2 separate regions of the Homo sapiens genome follow, and region 1 is linked to region 2. The links come from fine-mapping of genetic effects on gene expression. A gene starts in region 2. The other region holds a variant in brackets. All regions are shown on one strand. Distances are from middle to middle.

The links. PIP is the estimated chance that this variant, and not a neighbour inherited with it, causes the effect.
Region 1: its variant is fine-mapped to the expression of XPC in whole blood (TOPMed, PIP 0.96).

The regions. Positions count from the first base shown.
Region 1 is chr3:14,112,525-14,120,861 of GRCh38, forward strand. CHCHD4 (coiled-coil-helix-coiled-coil-helix domain containing 4) reads right to left here. Exons shown (of 3, transcript NM_001098502.2): 2 at 3,902-4,000; 3 at 1-670. The coding sequence ends at 363. Among named protein-coding and RNA genes, the nearest start is that of CHCHD4, 8.2 kb to the right of the region's middle. The variant G/C (reference allele first, on the strand shown) is at 4,920.
Region 2 is chr3:14,174,275-14,182,611 of GRCh38, forward strand. It overlaps XPC (XPC complex subunit, DNA damage recognition and repair factor), which reads right to left and starts at 4,327. Exons shown (of 16, transcript NM_004628.5): 1 at 4,192-4,327. The coding sequence starts at 4,294. LSM3 (LSM3 homolog, U6 small nuclear RNA and mRNA degradation associated) reads left to right here and starts at 4,543. Exons shown (of 4, transcript NM_014463.3): 1 at 4,543-4,607; 2 at 7,286-7,396. The coding sequence starts at 4,587. RefSeq lists a silencer at 3,967-4,086 and enhancers at 4,137-4,486, 4,587-4,636.

The DNA.
Region 1 (8,337 bases), 62 kb before region 2:
CCAAAAGGAATATAATGAATCAGAATAAATCAGCTCACTCACAAGAAACGTTCTTGGGTAATGGTTTTTAGTTGCTGAGCTTATTCAGCACATTATTTAAAAGTGGCAAAATTCAGGGCAATCTGAGAATTCAAAAGTGGCGGCCACAGGTTTGGGTAGGACACACATACATACAACCCCCATTTTTTTCAGTGTATATGTCAAGATGTCAAGACCTCAAGACCTCTGATCATCAAAATAAGTTATTTTGTATATTATAATGCACAGGACAACAGAAGGAAACTTTCTTGGAAGGTGATGACAAGGCCTTTTGCAAAAGGTCCACTCCAAAAGGACTGGTGCCCAGTGCCTTGTGGCCTTCATTAACTTGATCCCTCCTCTTCTTTGGTTGCAGTGGCCTCAATGGGAGCTGTTTCTTCTGCTTGTTCTGCTGGCTTCTTCTCTCTTTCCTCTTCCTCATCCTCATCCTCTTGGGGATAGAGGTCTGGGTATTTCTGCATGCATTCCTGCATGGCCCGGAACTGGTCTACACAGTCTGACCCCTTGATCTCCTCCGTGCTATAGTGGAAGCAGGAAAAGGCTGACTTAAACTGTTCTCCACAGGGACCGCTGGCCATTCCCCCAAGGCATGGGCAGTTCCAGTTAATGTTTCCATTTGGCAGTATCAATCCTAGAACAGGAAGATAGAGAGATGTTCTCTAAAGTTTCAGAAAATACAAAACTAGTCCAGTCCTCACAGGCTACTGAGGGGGTGCAGAACAGGAACTATTGTTGCCTATGGACCCACACCTCGATTTGGATTAGGTTTAAAGCCTAGCACATATCCAGCATTCCTTGGCCCACCTGGGAGAGAAGCCACCAATGACATATTTCTCCACGTGTGACACTAATTTATTCTAAGCCACCTCTCAGTGCTCTGAGGCTGTGCTCCAAGAATTAAATACCGGGACCCATTTAGCCCAAAGAAGAGGAGATCACTTGGATGGTTAGTGAGGAGCTTTTTGAAAGCCCAAACACTTTAAGGAACTGAGGTATTGATCTCCTCTTTCCAATCCCCCTCCCCATATGGATGATCAGGACCACCCCACCCCCATGCTCCCTGCCCCCCTGAGCCCCTCTTGCCCTGCAGCTGCTCTCAGAAGCTCAGCATAGCCTGGGGACTGGTGAAAAGGAGGAGGTTGCTCCTTATGTACTGACGAAGAAAGATGTCCAAGACATGCTGCACAATGAGAAGCTGGTGGCATACCATTAGTGCGAGTGCATTCTTGTAAAAATCAACCAAACCTGTTAAACTGCACATATGTGTTGGGCAGGAAGCAAGGTTATAGATGGGTTTTCATTTTCACTATATTAATAGGCTTCTTACTTTTGACTTTTATACCTTTTCTTATCATTGAACTTTATTCACATCTAAATAGTATTTCTTGGTTTTCCAAAATGCTCTCAAAACGATGGCTTCATTTTCAGCTTTGTGAAGACATGATTCATACAGAAGTTTCTTACATGATTCTTATTAAGAGACTGAAAGTACTTTCTAAGAGAGCCTCTAAAAGGTCCTGTGAAATTACACATGATTCTTCACTCCAGGGCAGTACCCAAGCCTGGCACTCTGCACTAACGTCCAAAGTCCTAGGCGAAACCCCGCCTGCCTTCAATTCCAGCTTGGGAAGCTCCACTGATCAATGGATCTGCTGTAGCTATTCCTGTTCCTTACTTGTAAAATGGGGACAGCAAGGACGATGCCAACTAGTGCTGCCCCCTTAGCAGGCGCAGACCCCCAGGACCATCAGCAGTTGCAGATCAAGTTCTCCTGCATTAAGCTACGTTTGGTAACTCACATAAGCCTTCTGACAACCTTCTGCAGTGGGTGCTACTAACCCCAGTTTACTCATGCAGTCTCTGGGGTTCATGGTCCAAGTGAGGACTGCAGACTGGGCTGACAGGATTCCCAGAGTCCATGCCCCTTCCCCTACATCTCACCACTTCTTGAAATGGACCTCAGTGCTGGAGAAACATTTGCAAATGCTGCCCCCTGGAGCTTCAAATCTGCTCACAAACCTGCACAACCAGTTTCCAAAAGAGGTAATACTGACATTTAAAAATTACAACCCAGTACAAATTGACCAGGTGGTTGATTAAAAAAAATCATAACAAAAAATGTATAACCTAGGTCTCCAGGAGTCCTTGTTTCATTGTTTCTTAGGGGCAGGTAAGCTGGAATGAGATACCTCCTCACAAAGCACATGGTGCCAATTTGCATTTCAGGGACACAATATAAATCCACACAGAGGGTACCTTTGGCATGTTACATAAAGCTCAGATGCAGTGTGTTGTCAAACATGCAGTCTAAGGCCTGAAGTTCCAGTCTCTGGCTGAGTCAGTCTCCGCCCCCGCCCAGGCCCCCAGTTTTCTCATTGGATCAGATGATCTTTAAGGCCCTCTTGATGTTTTGATTCTAGGAAAATTAATTCTGCCACCTTTTTTCTTGGTACTCTTAGCTATTCCAAGCACCATCTCAGCTGCAGAGCTGGATGCTGGAAGGCAGGTAGATGGCATAAAATGGTGGCTTACTTGGTCCACTTACTAATTTTGCAGTTTAAGAGCTTGAAACTTGGGTCCCAGAGTTCTTTGCGTTTTATAGGCTTCTTTTTACAAAGTATTCACTATAAGGGGCTGTAAAGCCAAATGCATCATATGGTATACCTACTATCCAAGCAGATACATTGCAAGTGACAGAAGCAGGTAAAAAAAAACAACAGGGACAGGAAAGAATGGTGGGATCTGGAGGGGGCAGACCAGTCTAAAGGCAGATACGTACTGCTTTTAATAACACTGTGAGGCAAACAAAACAAGGCCCGATTTGTCCTGCAGGCCTCCACAGTCTTGATCAATTAATGAAATGTGCTTAATATGGATCTAAAGATAAGCAAGGTACTAGAATTGACATGTAAGCCCTGATCAAGATTACCCTTGCAGCTGTCTTTCTCAGAATGCTAACACTTTGTATAACGTCTGCATTTCCCACTGCTCCCACTGGGTGCTGGATATGTATTTTATGCTTTAACCCCTAGGAGCAGTCAGGGCAACAAGTGAAGGGTCCTACAAGGAATATACACACATCAGTTAGCATTTGAGAAATTCCAATCAGGAGCCCATATTCTCGAGGCGGCTGCTTCAAGCTCTTCAATTACCAGTTAGCACTAGAAGATTAGTTGTCATCATGGACATCAGAAGTGGTTTTTGATTGGTGAAGTGACTACTGTACAATACGTAGATTGTTCATGGACACTGCACACACACATCCACCTCACACGGTCTGCAGTAGTAAGTATCTAGTGAGTTTAGCAGCCCAAATCCTTTGGAACAATGTCCTAGGCCTAAGCGACCACTGTTATATTCAGCCATTAACCAAGGAGTGAGCAACAGCTCTGACTAGGTTAGCTGACTCCTGCTGCTAGAAAGCTGTCTGTGGCAAGTGACCTTTTCATGTAAGGTGCTTGCTGGAGCAGTTAGAGACAGCAGGGACTTCACCAACCTTACAGAACAAGGTGAATGACTGTCTACTTGCTAATAAAGTTGGTAGATGTGGCAGAATTCAGTCTGGCAACTTGTCTGAGCAAAAGCCCTGTCACCTTAACCTACCTATAACTGCTGGAATCTACTAATACCCTCTCCCAAAACTTAGCTGTTGTGCCAGGGAAGTACATCAGAACAAGGCTGGAAAGCACAGTCCCTCAAACCTCTGAGGAAGATAAACCACTGCCCTCAGAGATGGTCTATGGCTGAGAATAGATACCTGAAAACTTGGCCTTGGCTAGGAAAACATGGGAAAGGAATTAAGAACACTGAGCTTCTCCCCAGTGCCCTGGTGTGGGTCCCTGGGAGGCCACATGTCACTCACCATGCTCCTCGTATGGATCGTTGGGGTCATCAGCCACCAATTCTGCACTGCTTGGAGTTTCATGATCTTCTTTGGTTACAAATATGATTCGATCCTTCCCTAGTGTTTGGAGAACAGAGGAAGAAATATTTCATTCAAGAGCAGTGAATCAGCTTTAAACCCAAAGCAGCCGCCACACAAACCAAGTTTGAAGACTCTCCCATATGCCATCCCTATGTGAGGTGACTATCAAACTGCTCTCATATGCTAGGGGTAGCAAACAAAAGCGGATGGATAAGGGGCAGGGCAGGAAAAGAAGCACTGAAGAAAAAGAGTGTCCTGGGGTTGACCCACAGGGTTCAGAATGCATAAAAGTTGAAGGAAGACTGAGCACATTGGCAAAGTGAGTGTGCAGTGATGTGGGTCCTCAGCCTACAGATCACTGCAGCCCACATAGCTGATGCGGCCACAGGCCCCTGCCTCTGAAAGGCTGAGGACACAGGTGGTCTGAGAGGGACCACAGCCAGCACCCCCACTAGGCCTCTGGGCTCCTAATCGTGGCCGGAAGAAGGAAGGGTCATAAGGTGAGGAACACTGCAGCCGTTCCACTCCCCACAGTCCAAGAGGCCGGGGGACCATTTCCCAACAAGTATAATAACTGGAGGGGGGCAGTGGGAGGAGCACTTCTCAGATCTTTTTAACTGTGACCATCTGCAGTTTATTTTTTTAGGACAAACCCAACAGTGGTTAGGGTCAGGACTGTGGTCCTGTGAGGACCAGCATGGGAAAGCCAGCAGGCCTAAAGTGCAGAGCACCTTGTTCACAACCAGAGCCCTCACCCTGGGGCCTGGCTGCCGGAAGGTCTGAGGGCTCCAGGAAAACAGACCAGTGAGAGTCAAATGCATTTTATATTAGGAGCTTCTCCTCACTGGAGGCTGGGTGAGCACAGAAAAGCACATCAGTCCTGGCCAAACCAGGGTGGGTGCATTCACTGCCTTAGAGTGACCCCCTATGAAGTATTATCACCCTCAGCCCCCAT[G/C]GAGTACAACAGAAAACCAAGGCTGAGTTAAGCAGAAGGGAGGTCCTTACAGCCCTCTCTGCTACACCTTGTAGCTGTCAACACTTTACCTCACCTCCCTAAAAACTTTGGCCATCAGCTAACCACACCACAGGTATGTGTCAGATATTCCCATTGTGGGCAAGGAGCACCTTGTCCTCAGTACCCCACACTGCACGGTGGGTCATCAGTTTCTCCAGCTGTCCCCAGAGAACAGACAGAGCCAGTCCATCTTTTGGTCCTCCGTGTGAGCTCATTCCTCCATCCTATCGCCACCCTGAGAGGGAGGTAGCAGCATCCCCTTTTAATGGTGGTGAGCCTGAGGCTGTGAGTAGTAACTTGCTGGGCCACACAGGACAGGATGCTCTGAAGTCTACACTGTTGGAGATCCTTTCTACACACCCATACTGCCCCGCACCAACATTTGCACAAGAATAATCGACAGCTGACACTGAGCACTTAGCATGACTGGGCACTGCCTGAGAGCTTGTGCACCTTGGGCAATGAATAAATACAATAAATTCTGACCCAACCTCGGCCCCAAAAAGCTTAGAACCAAGTGAAATGTTTGCCAAGTAAACAAACAAGATCTTTCTTGTACTTTCCTGGTGAAGGTGAATGACAAATTCTACAGACCAACTGACCATGCATTCTGATCCTAGAAGATCTGGGGTACTGGGACCCTCATCTGGAAGGGGATAGGAGGTGCCAAGCATTTAAGAAGACTTCTTCAGGTATGGCCAAAAGTGCCTGGCAGAGAGCCACAGTGCATGGCTCTGAGTGAGTGGCCACTGTGGGCGCAGAGGCCGGACCTGCAGAAACGTGGCCCTGTGAAAGCTGCGGGCATCTCTGATCACTTTATACTTTTTGTTTATATTTAGAAAAGTTCAGTCACAGCTATGCTGAGGGGAAAGCAAGGAAAAAGGTTTGGGCCCATGCTTGGGCTGAAGTAATTAAGGAAGAGGCTTCTGGAAGGAAGGGGGCAGTGACAACAAAAACCGAGCGACATCTCCAGTGAGAAGGACAGTTCAGGGGACAGAGGGAGGGCACTTTGGTGCCTTACGCCATGCCCACACTGCACAGGGTCTCTTACACTAGAACAGAGTAACAACAAAAAACCCTCAGCACACGGGGCCAGGACCCCCAACCCACTGGAGGCTTTTGCTCCCAGAGCTGGCCTCTGCCTCAATACCTTGCATGTCATCCAACAGAAGGCTGCTTTTCCCCTGTGGCTGACTGGGGAAAGCTTTTGGACCAGGCAGCCAGGACTTGTTAAAGTACCTAGTAACCTTGATTCTACTATTCTGGCCAGTTTCCAAAATACTCAAAAGCAATCTGTAAAAATGTTGAACGCTAAGCAGAATGAGCTGATGCAAATTTCGCAACTCAGCTCTGGCAGTTTTGTTTACCGAGATGGCAGCTCAGCGCAGCCCAACGGGGAGGCCCAGTCACAGGCACAGAAAGCAAAGGGTCCAAACGTGGTAAAGTATGAGGCCCTCCTGGGGTTTGCCATACATAGAGAGACCAGGCCTCACCCAAGAAAAGCTGAATCGAGCTCTCTGCCATGTCCATGTAGCTCACGGGCTTCACAGGTGACTGTGATACACAGCCAGGTTAGGAAACACCAGCCTAGCACAATCCCACTGAGAATTCCAGGTCCCTCCCACTGGGCCAGGTCCTCACATGTGCCTTCCTGGACATTTTCCCTTGCAGCACAGTTCACACTGGATCGAAAGTAGAACAGTAACAGCTGTATCTTTTACACATTTTTGTCCCATGCAATGTGTTTTATTACATCTGTGAGTTCACTGGTGGGTATTACTTTATCTCCATTTTACAGAGACCACAGGATCTGAGAAACAGACCAAAAGACATGCAGTAAATGAAGGCAGAACAGGAACAGGAACTCTGGTCTGAAAGATCTGGAGTATGTCCCCTACAAACTGTCCATTGTATGCCTGTCCTAGAGGGCCTTTGCTTTCTGGAACTTTTAAAAGTCGATTCAAGGACTGATGCAAGGACAAGGCTTACCTATTCCTAACAGACCTAACTGTGAAAGAAAGGACTGGTCAGACTAGTCGTAAGATGCCAACTAGTGGGACAATCAGCTAGACTAGTAGTTCTCATGACATTTGTCAGCAATTTCTCTAGAGAAATAAAATTTAAAAGTGCTTGTGTTTTTATTTCTAAGATAAGCTTTAAAAGCAGTTGAATATGCATGTTCTGAAGGAGGTGGAAAACTACCTTAAACCCTCTGGTGCACAGTGGCTTCAATATTTCAATATCACAGAGAGTCTGAGAACTGGAGTTCAAATCTGGGCTTAAGCACTTCCCACTGTATGAGCTCAGGTACCATCTGGGCCTCAGAAACCAGGCCTTACCACCAGCTCCACCTACCTACCTCACGTGGTTGGGGAGGTGAAATGAGTTTCTGCTGTCAGCTGGAATCCCACTTGACAGCAATTTTTAAAGGGCATCAAGGATAGCATGGCCAGGAAAAGAGACAATCACAGGCTCAGAGATGTCAATAATGTTTTGGAAATGGGAGAGCTGATGGTCGAGTGCTCTCTGACTTAACCAGTGAAGAAAGCTGAACTCAAAGTGCACAAGGAGGAGGTCATCCAGAATCAACTCAGTCCCCACCCCAGAACCTTGGTCAGAGTGGGGAACTGGAGGCCCGAGGGGTTACTCTGAGTGCAGGACTTCAGGGTGGGGCTGAGAACAGAACTGAGTGAGCAGTCAGATACAAAGACACCTTCCACCCCCAGCTGTTTAGTTTTACTCTCGGTAGAGCCACCCCAACCCGTCTTTCTCTCACATCTCCAACAGCAAATTGGAATGGCTCGATCTTCAAATACATCCAGAAAGAGCTGCATCCCTCACCTCTTCGACCCCATCTCCCACCATCACTCCCTGCACTCCAGCCACGCTGGCCTCTGCTTTTACTTGAATGTGCTGAGCACATGCCTACCTCTGGCCTTTGCACAGGGTGTTCTGTCCTCCAGGAGCACCTTCCCTTCCCTCAGGTACCCTCACAGCGATTTCTCCCTGCTTTCACCTCCTGCTCAGATGCCACCGTCCCTGACCACTGCCCATCTCCCTTATCCCGCTTTATCTTTCTCCAAAGTGCTTTTCGTCACCCAACATACTATGTATGTTTACCACTTGATGCCCCCACTGGAATGTCAGCTCCTCAGAGGCAGTGATTTTTGTCTATTCTGTTCATTGCAGTATCCTGAGAGCCCAGAATAGTACCAAGGACAAAGTGGGTGTTCAATATTTGTTGAAAAAAATGAATGGAGAAACAACTCTGGATTAGGGCTTGAAGACCCAAGTGTAAGAATTAAAGAGGAGAGAAACACGAAGGGTGGCTTTTCAGTCAACAGGGACAGGTTTATTT
Region 2 (8,337 bases):
CTGAGAACAGATTGCCTACTCCAAGGCCAGAGGTTGCATAAAGCTTAAGATTTGACAGTTTGAGGAGGGTGCCCCTAAAATCAAGATTTCTGGATCTTACAATGGTAGTTAGCCCTCTAATAATAGGCAAAGATGCTAAACACTTCAATTTCTACTAATCTAAAAAAATGCACGTAGGAGGATACTTCAGAGGCATCACAAACTTTTCTAGTTGGTTAAAAAGCACAGCTTTTATTTCCGTTTGAAGAGAAAGGTAGAGGAGTTAAAAGGGAAAGGGGGATAAAGGAAACACAAAAACTCTGAATCAAAAGGATGTTCATAGTATTCAAAAGCATCTAACAATAATCTGAATGTCCAACCATGAGATAATTGTTAAGTAACTTATGGCAGAGCCACACAACAAAATATAATTGAGTCATCCTTTAAGATAAAGAAAAACGATATATGATGTAATGTTACTCATGCAAAGTTGATTTTACAGTATGCTTTCTGCTATATAAAAAACAGACTAGAAGGAAACAGACCACTATTTCATGGTGGCTATTTCTGGATGGCAGAAATATGGGTGACTTTCTGTTCTCTGCTATTTTTTGGTCCCTAAGCATCTAGAGACTCTTTTCCAGGACTCTCCAAAATCTTGAGTTATCTAATATGCCTAACCAGACTCCTTGAGTTCAGTGTTCTTTCAGTAGGGCAGGAATTACCACTGTGGTCTGCTTGCCCATCTACTGGGATTTAATAAGAACACCGGAGTAAACCTTCCAGCAGCAACTCATAGCACTCAGAATAAAATTCCAACTCCTTAGCTTGGTATCCAAGCTCAGGCCCTTGCTCACTTCTCCTACCCAGCCCCTCGCTCGCTGTGTCCAGCCAACTGGCCAAGTTCATTCCCTCCTAAGAGTGTTTAAACACACTGTTCTCTCTGCCTAGAACTCTTTTCCCCAGAACTTCCTATGAATGGCTCAAAATTACACTAAATGCCTCAAAATGCCACCTCCTTACAAAGGCCTTCCCTGACACTGATTCCCATTTAGCTGCCTCTCCCCCAGCCCCATATAAGTTTGAGGGTTTTTCTTTTCATCTATAGAAGCATTTTCTGCTATGTACCCAAATAAGTTTTATCACAGCAGTCTTAGCACAGGGTGATAGCTCTTATCATCATGTGAATCCGTTTTTTTTTAACTTGTTATCTGCTCTAAGTACCCCTCCCCCCAGATTATAATCATGAGAGCAGGTGCCTCATCTGTCTTGTTCAATATTATCCTAGTACCTGGAACAGTGTGTGAAAATAGTAGGCGCTCAATAAACAGCTGTTGAAGGAATTAATGGATATCACTGAAGGTGTTAACACAGAGAAGAAATGAAAAGAAACCAGAGGTGCTTTAGTAACACAAAGGAAATCATGTGGAAGCCTGTTTTCTTTTCTCCTATTTGTCAAAAGCAGCCAAGTATCACCTTCATTTGCATGTACAGGGGTGCTATTAAAACCTACACTATTACAGTGTTAGCAACTACACTGACAGTCACCAAATTATTGTCATCTGCAGCCCAAACCATACTTGCTAAGTCTATGCTTCCCCACAAAACCACCAAACCACAACAAAGGTTGTAACTCTGCAGATCCTGGAAGCTGCCTTGGGAACTGACTGCTAGCTCCTCTGGCTAGCAGAATAAACTTGGGTGCATCTTTACCTCCGTTTAGGCTGAATGACACCAGCTAGCCCAACTAATTTACCTAACATGGGTAAAGCTAAAGCTCTTGGCTTTATATGCTATCCCACTGAAAACTCACAGCCACCCCGCAAGGCAGTTATTACATTTCACAGAGGAAATTCAGAAGGGCTAAAACATTTGTCCAAAATAATTCACCCAAGTGCATAAAACTAAGAATTGAAGCTCTACCAAGCTGGAACCGAGGTGAAGTGTTGAGCTGGGAAGAATACAGGTAGCATTTCCATCAGATTAAAACCGTAAATTTTTAATTGCCATATATCCAAATTACATTCTGACTAGAATACCGGCCCCTTTTTGTGACCCCTTGCTAAAATACCAACCATCCTTTAAATCACAGATCAAACTACTTCAGAGAGCGTTCCCCGATCACGCCAGTCAAACTTGATTAATCCTTTGGAAGCTACAAAGCCTTGTACCTTCTTCCACAATATTTAGCACACTTTGCCTTGAATGTTTTACATGTAAATGTCATGTCAACACTACTCTATGATCCTCCAAGATATGTTTATCTCTCATGTCACCTCATTCATGTACAGCACATAGTAGATACTCAAAAGATGTTATTTGAATGAGTAAATGAGTGAATAAAATGGAACTCGTAATATTACATATGAGGTAAATCACCTCCTAAGTTTACGAATTATTACCATTTCACTATTTCCTAATGGATGATGAATTTATAACCGGTATAGAAACAGAATCTAGTGTGATAGCCTTTGCCGGTTACCTAGTCTAATCTACCCAGTTTTTTCAGGAGACCCAGAAATTCCTTCTACAGCCTGCATTTTGCAATTATTTAAAATATTTACTAGCCGGGCGCAGTGGCTCATGCCTGTAATCCCAACACTTCGGGAGGCCGAGGCAAACGGATCACCTGAGGTCAGGAGTTTGAGACCAGCCTGGCCAACATGGCGAAACCCCATCTATACAAAAATACAAAAATTAGCCGGACATGGTGTCAGGCACCTGTAACACCAGCTACTCGGGAGGCTGAGGCAGGAGAATCACTTGAACCTAGGAGGCGGAGGTCACGCCACTGCACTCCAGCCTCAGCGACAGAGTGAGACACTGTCTCGAAAAAAATAAAAAATAAATAAAATATTTATTTAGCATTTAGCCCTACCAATCCACGGGCCCTGCATCCACAGATTCAACCAACCACAGATGAATATATTTCGGGAAAAAAAATACAAATTTAAAAAATACAGCATGACAACTATTTCCATAGTATCCACATTGTATTAGGTATTATTAGTGATCTAGAGATGATTTAAAGTATGTCGGAGGATGTGCATAGGTTACATGGAAACACTAGGCCATTTGATATAAGGTACTTGAGCATCACAGGTTTTAGTATCCGCGGGGTATCTGGGAAGGACCACCTTAGTTTGCTCAAGGAATGTCTAACTTGAGTTTTGAAGAAATAGAAAAAATCAGCCCTGGTAAAAGCCATGGGGGGTTCACTCTAGGCAGAAGGAACATCAAAGGAAAAGACTCAAGGAATAACTTGGCATATTTGAGGAAGAGAAAGGAGGCCAATAAGGAGGGTATCTGGCAAGGAAACAAGTGGTAAGAGAAACAGGAGAGGTAGCAAGAGCCAAAACATGTAGTATCTTGTAGGCCAGGATAAAACAACTGGATTTTAAGCTAAGAGCAATGGAAAACCAAGGGGAGTTTAAAGCAGGAGCAGGGCATGATTTTTTTTTTTTTTAAGATTATTTGGGTTGCTGGATGCAGAGCTGGGAGGCCAGTAAAGAGGAAACTGCAGTCACTCAACTGAAAGGTGATGATGACTTGGACAGGGGCTGTGGTCATGGAAATGAAGAGAAGTGGACAAATTTGAAATACACTCTTGAGGCTGAACTGACTGGACTTGCTGACGGACTGGATGTGTGGACATAAGAAAAAGGTGGGCTTTGCTTTATAACAAGTATTGAGACTGGAAAAACGGAGGAAAGCATAGATTTAAAGAGGAAAACCATGAGTTCTGCATTGCCCATGACAAATGTAAGAAGCCTATCAAATATCCATGAGGGGAAGTCAGGTGGGATCCCACTGTGGAACTCTGGGTGAGACTCAGCTGAAGTTATCATTCGGGAGTCAGCACACTGCATCACTCTACGTCCTGGTCCGTCCGTCTGTCTTCCTGGGACACAAATAACTGCCTTCTCCGAGTTCAACCCTGAACATCTGTATCCTCTGGACAACGGGGAGCGGGAAAAAAGCTACGCAGGAGCTTGGATCGGGCGAAGCTCGCGGGAAACCGCTCTGGGTGCGCAGGACAAAGACGCGGGGACAGCGGGGAGGGCCGGCCGCAGCCTGCCGGGCTGCCCCCACGGCGCGGAACGCGCGCAGCAACCTCCACCAGGCCTCCGCGTCTGGACTCCCGCCCTGCCTCTGGGCCTCCTCCGCCCACCGGCGGCGTCTCCCGCGAAGCCCGCTGGGCCTCGCTCTCACCCTCCTCCTCCTCCTCACGCCGGGCCTTGCTCTTGGCCTTGGATTTCTGGCTGCGCAGTTCGCGTCCCCGCGGCTCCCCGCCGGCCGCGCGTTTCCGAGCCATGTTGCTTGTCTGGGCAAATTCCACTTCGCGAGTGACGCACCCGGCCGCGATGCGCTAGAACGCCGGCCCCGCCCCGAGGCGGTGCGCTTGGCCACGCCCCTTCGTTGGAGGCCTAGTCACGCCCCTAAAGGAAGCTCCACCCCATACCCGTGGCCACTAAAAAACTGCGGGAAGCAGGAAAGAGCACAACAGGTTTCTCTCTATTTCCGGTGTATTGTATCCTCACGTTTCCGGAGATTGACGTTGCTCTTGTGTTCTCGCGAGAGGCGGGAAAGGGCGCAGGGTTTGAAACATGGCGGACGACGTAGACCAGGTAAGTGTATTTTAAGGAGGTCGCTCGAAGGAGCTTCTTGTACTAGGCTGCTTTTTCCAGACTCAGGAAAAATGGCCAGTCGTGCCTCCTCTCTCCAAGTCACCATGGCCTAATCCACCCTGTCCTTTCCGTAACCCCCCCTCCGAATTTTGCCGTAGGCCCTGAGACCTTTTCCTGTTAGAAGCCCACCTGATGACTATTCTCACACTCTTCGCTTCATTTTTTTAAATCTGTAGATTATTATCCTTAGCTACCTCATGGAGCTGTCAGGATTCCAATAGAAAGCCAGGTAATAAAGTTAGGAGTTGTTATCATTAGTGAGCGCAACAATTATTTATTCATTCAGCAGATAGAGTGAACATCAGCTTTGTATGGTTAGGCACTGTTCTAAGGGCCAGGGACACTGACATCGACATATAAGAGATCCTTGCCATTACTTGGAGCTTATATTTGCGAGGAGAACAGATAAAAGTAAATATAAATATGTAAGACTTCCAGGAACTGTGATGTGCTGTGAAGGAAACAAGGAACTGGTATGCAGAATAACAGATGGTCCTAGAAGCTTTTTCACCTGGTCTTTTTCTTCCTCAAATATCTTTGGAGATCATGCCACAACTTAAACTTTCTACTGAAATCTGACCTCCTCAGAGAGGACTTCTGCCCAAATAGCACTCCCGCTACTCTGGTTACCCTGCCTCATTTTTCTTCATAGAGAGTTATTTTTTCATATTAAATGTATGCATCTTTGTTTAATGTGAATCTCTCCCCACTAGAATGTAAATGCCATAAGAGCAGGGATTTTGTTTTGTTCATTCTTTTGTCTTTGGGGTTTAGAACAGTGCTGGAAACACTCAAAAAATATTTGAGTGAATGAGTTAGATGATCAGAGGAAGCCTCTTTGAGAAGCCAATATTTAAAGCTACAGGATGAAAAGAGCAGACAGTGGGCATCCCAGACAGAGGCTTAGGTAGCAGTAGGGCTTTTTCATGTGCATATTCTTACAGTATTATAATTATTTGTATGCCTCTCCACAGTAGAATGAGCTCCTTGAGGGTGGGGATTGTGACTTCTCTATCATTGTAATCTAACAGTTGGTTATCTGATCCTTTAACAAACACTTGTTGAACTGAGGGACATAGGGACCAGTTGAGTTAGGTTATTTTTTTCTCTCATCAGGCCTTTTGAATCTTCAGAGCCTGTTACCAATTCAGTTACCTTCCTCCACTGGCCTTGTGTACTTACTGAAGAAGCTCTCCTTGAATAATCTTTCTAACTCTTAGCGGCTGCAACCATCCCTTCCATGTGGGTGACCCCAAGTCATCCTAGCCCTGACCTCTAAAACCAATGTTTCCAGCAGTTCTGTAATAATATAATATTAATAGGAATCTTTTCTTTTCCTTTTTTTTTCTATTCTTTTCTTTTTTTTGGATGGAGTCTCACTCTATCGCCCAGGCTGGAGTGCAGTGGCGTGATCTCAGCTCACTGCAACCTCTGCCTCCTGGGTTCAAGTGATTCTCCTGTCTCAGCCTCCCAAGTAGCTGGGACTACAGGTGCGTGCCGCCACACCTGGCTAATTTTTGTATTTTTCGTAGAGATGGGGTTTCACCATGTTGGCCAGGCTGGTCTCAAACTCCTAACCTCAGGTGATCTGCCTTTCTCAGCCGCCCAAAGTGCTGGGATTCAAGCGTGAGCCACCACGCCCGGCCAATAGGAACCATTTCTAAATATTAATATTTTCTGTTTTCCTGGCACTGTTTTTAAATGCATTAACTAGTTTAATCCTCATAAGAACCCAGAAAGAAGGTTGTGGCTTTCTCAATTACAAATGAAGAATCTGAGAATTACAGATGGCATGATTTTTAATCTCAGTTCATAAATGTCAGGTCACAGCCAGGAGTTGAACCCGGACTGCCTGACTCCAAAGCCAGTGCTTGCTTGCCTTTTTTTTTTTTTTTTTTTTTTTTTTTTTTTTTTTTAAAAAAAAAAAAGACAAGAGTCTCACTCTGTTGCCCAAGCTGGAGTGCAGTGGCACGATCTTGGCTCACTGCAACCTCCACCTCGCCAGGCTCAAGCAATCCTCCCACCTCAGCCCTTGGAGTAGCTGGGACTACAGGCATGTGCCACCATGCCCGGCTAAGCCAGTGCTTTCAACCAGTGTTCTATACTGGCTACTAAATATATTTATCTTATTCACCAGTTGGCAGCCTAAACTCAACCTGTGCTGAATTCATAATCTTCCCATAAACCTACACCTCTATTTGGCATTCTGACTAGTGTATGGTAGGCATTAAGTGAGTGTTTTTCCAATGATTACATAATATTTGAGATAAAGCTAAAGTCCCTGAGACCCTATGCCCTGAAATTGGGTCAGGCAGTTTGGATTTTGAGGGAACAAAGTATAGTCATGATTATTTTGCTGTGTAACTTCTCATGTATGTGTGTTTTAACCTACATTTATATAGCACGTATTATGTGAAAAGCTCTGTTCTAAGCCTTCATGTATATCACTTAAGCCTCACAAAAACAGTATTAGGTAGACACTATTATCTCCATTTTACAGATTAGGAGACTGAGGCAGAAAAAGGTTAAATAACTTGCCCATGGTCACACAGCATAGCAGTGATTTAAGCACTACTCTGACTCTAGTACTACATTACTAATCCTGTTTCTTTTATCAGCAACAAACTACCAACACTGTAGAGGAGCCCCTGGATCTTATCAGGCTCAGCCTAGATGAGCGAATTTATGTGAAAATGAGAAATGACCGAGAGCTTCGAGGCAGATTACATGTAAGTAAATTTATCAAGTTACCTTGAAATCAGATTCCTTCCTACCCCCACTCCCTTGAAATGTAAAACCTGTCCAGAGTGAAAGGGTATTTTGAAGGAAGAGAGGGTGGTGGAAAGTCACCCATATCACATAAGCCAAATAAAGCGGCATGTATTCACATTTTTAACATTTTTTCTTTTAATAGAAATACGTTTATTATAGAACATTTTTATTCCCTTCATTTTTCCCTTCTGTTTATTTGTAAATAATATTTACTTGTCCTCCATTCGTAAATGTTTTTTAAATTTAAAACACAAATATGTGTTTTATTAGGAAAAGTTAAACAGCACAAAAATATATAGAGTAAAAAGTGAAATCCCATTTCTTCTACTGGTAATCACTACTAAAAATGGGATTATCTTGGCCAGGTGCAGTGGCTCATTCCTGTAATCTCAGCACTTTGGGAGACTGGGGCAGGAGGATCACTTGAGGCCAGGAGTTCTCTGTGTTGCCAGCCTGGGCAACATAGAGAGACCCTGTCTCTACAAAAAATAAAATTTAAAAATTGGGTTACCTTTTCTGTATGTTTACACATATACACTCATATATGTACATGTGCACATACTTGCATTATGTACACCCTACCTCTACAAAACATGGATCTTGCCATACATGTTTTTCAGTACCTTTTTTTTTTTTCACTTAATCTTTCTTGGAAATTGATCATGAGTGCATTTAATTTTCGTTTATTCTTTTTAATGACTACCTAGGATTCTGTATATGATAGTGATCGATTTTTTTTCATTTCTTGCTACAAATACGTAAATACTTGCAGTAAGCATTTTTTTACATATTTCTTTGTGCATATCTGCAAAATATCTGTAGAATTGGTCCCTTGAAATAATCCCATTTGTTCATAGAGAACCCTGAAGGTTTTGCCTCTCCTTAATGACTTGTTACT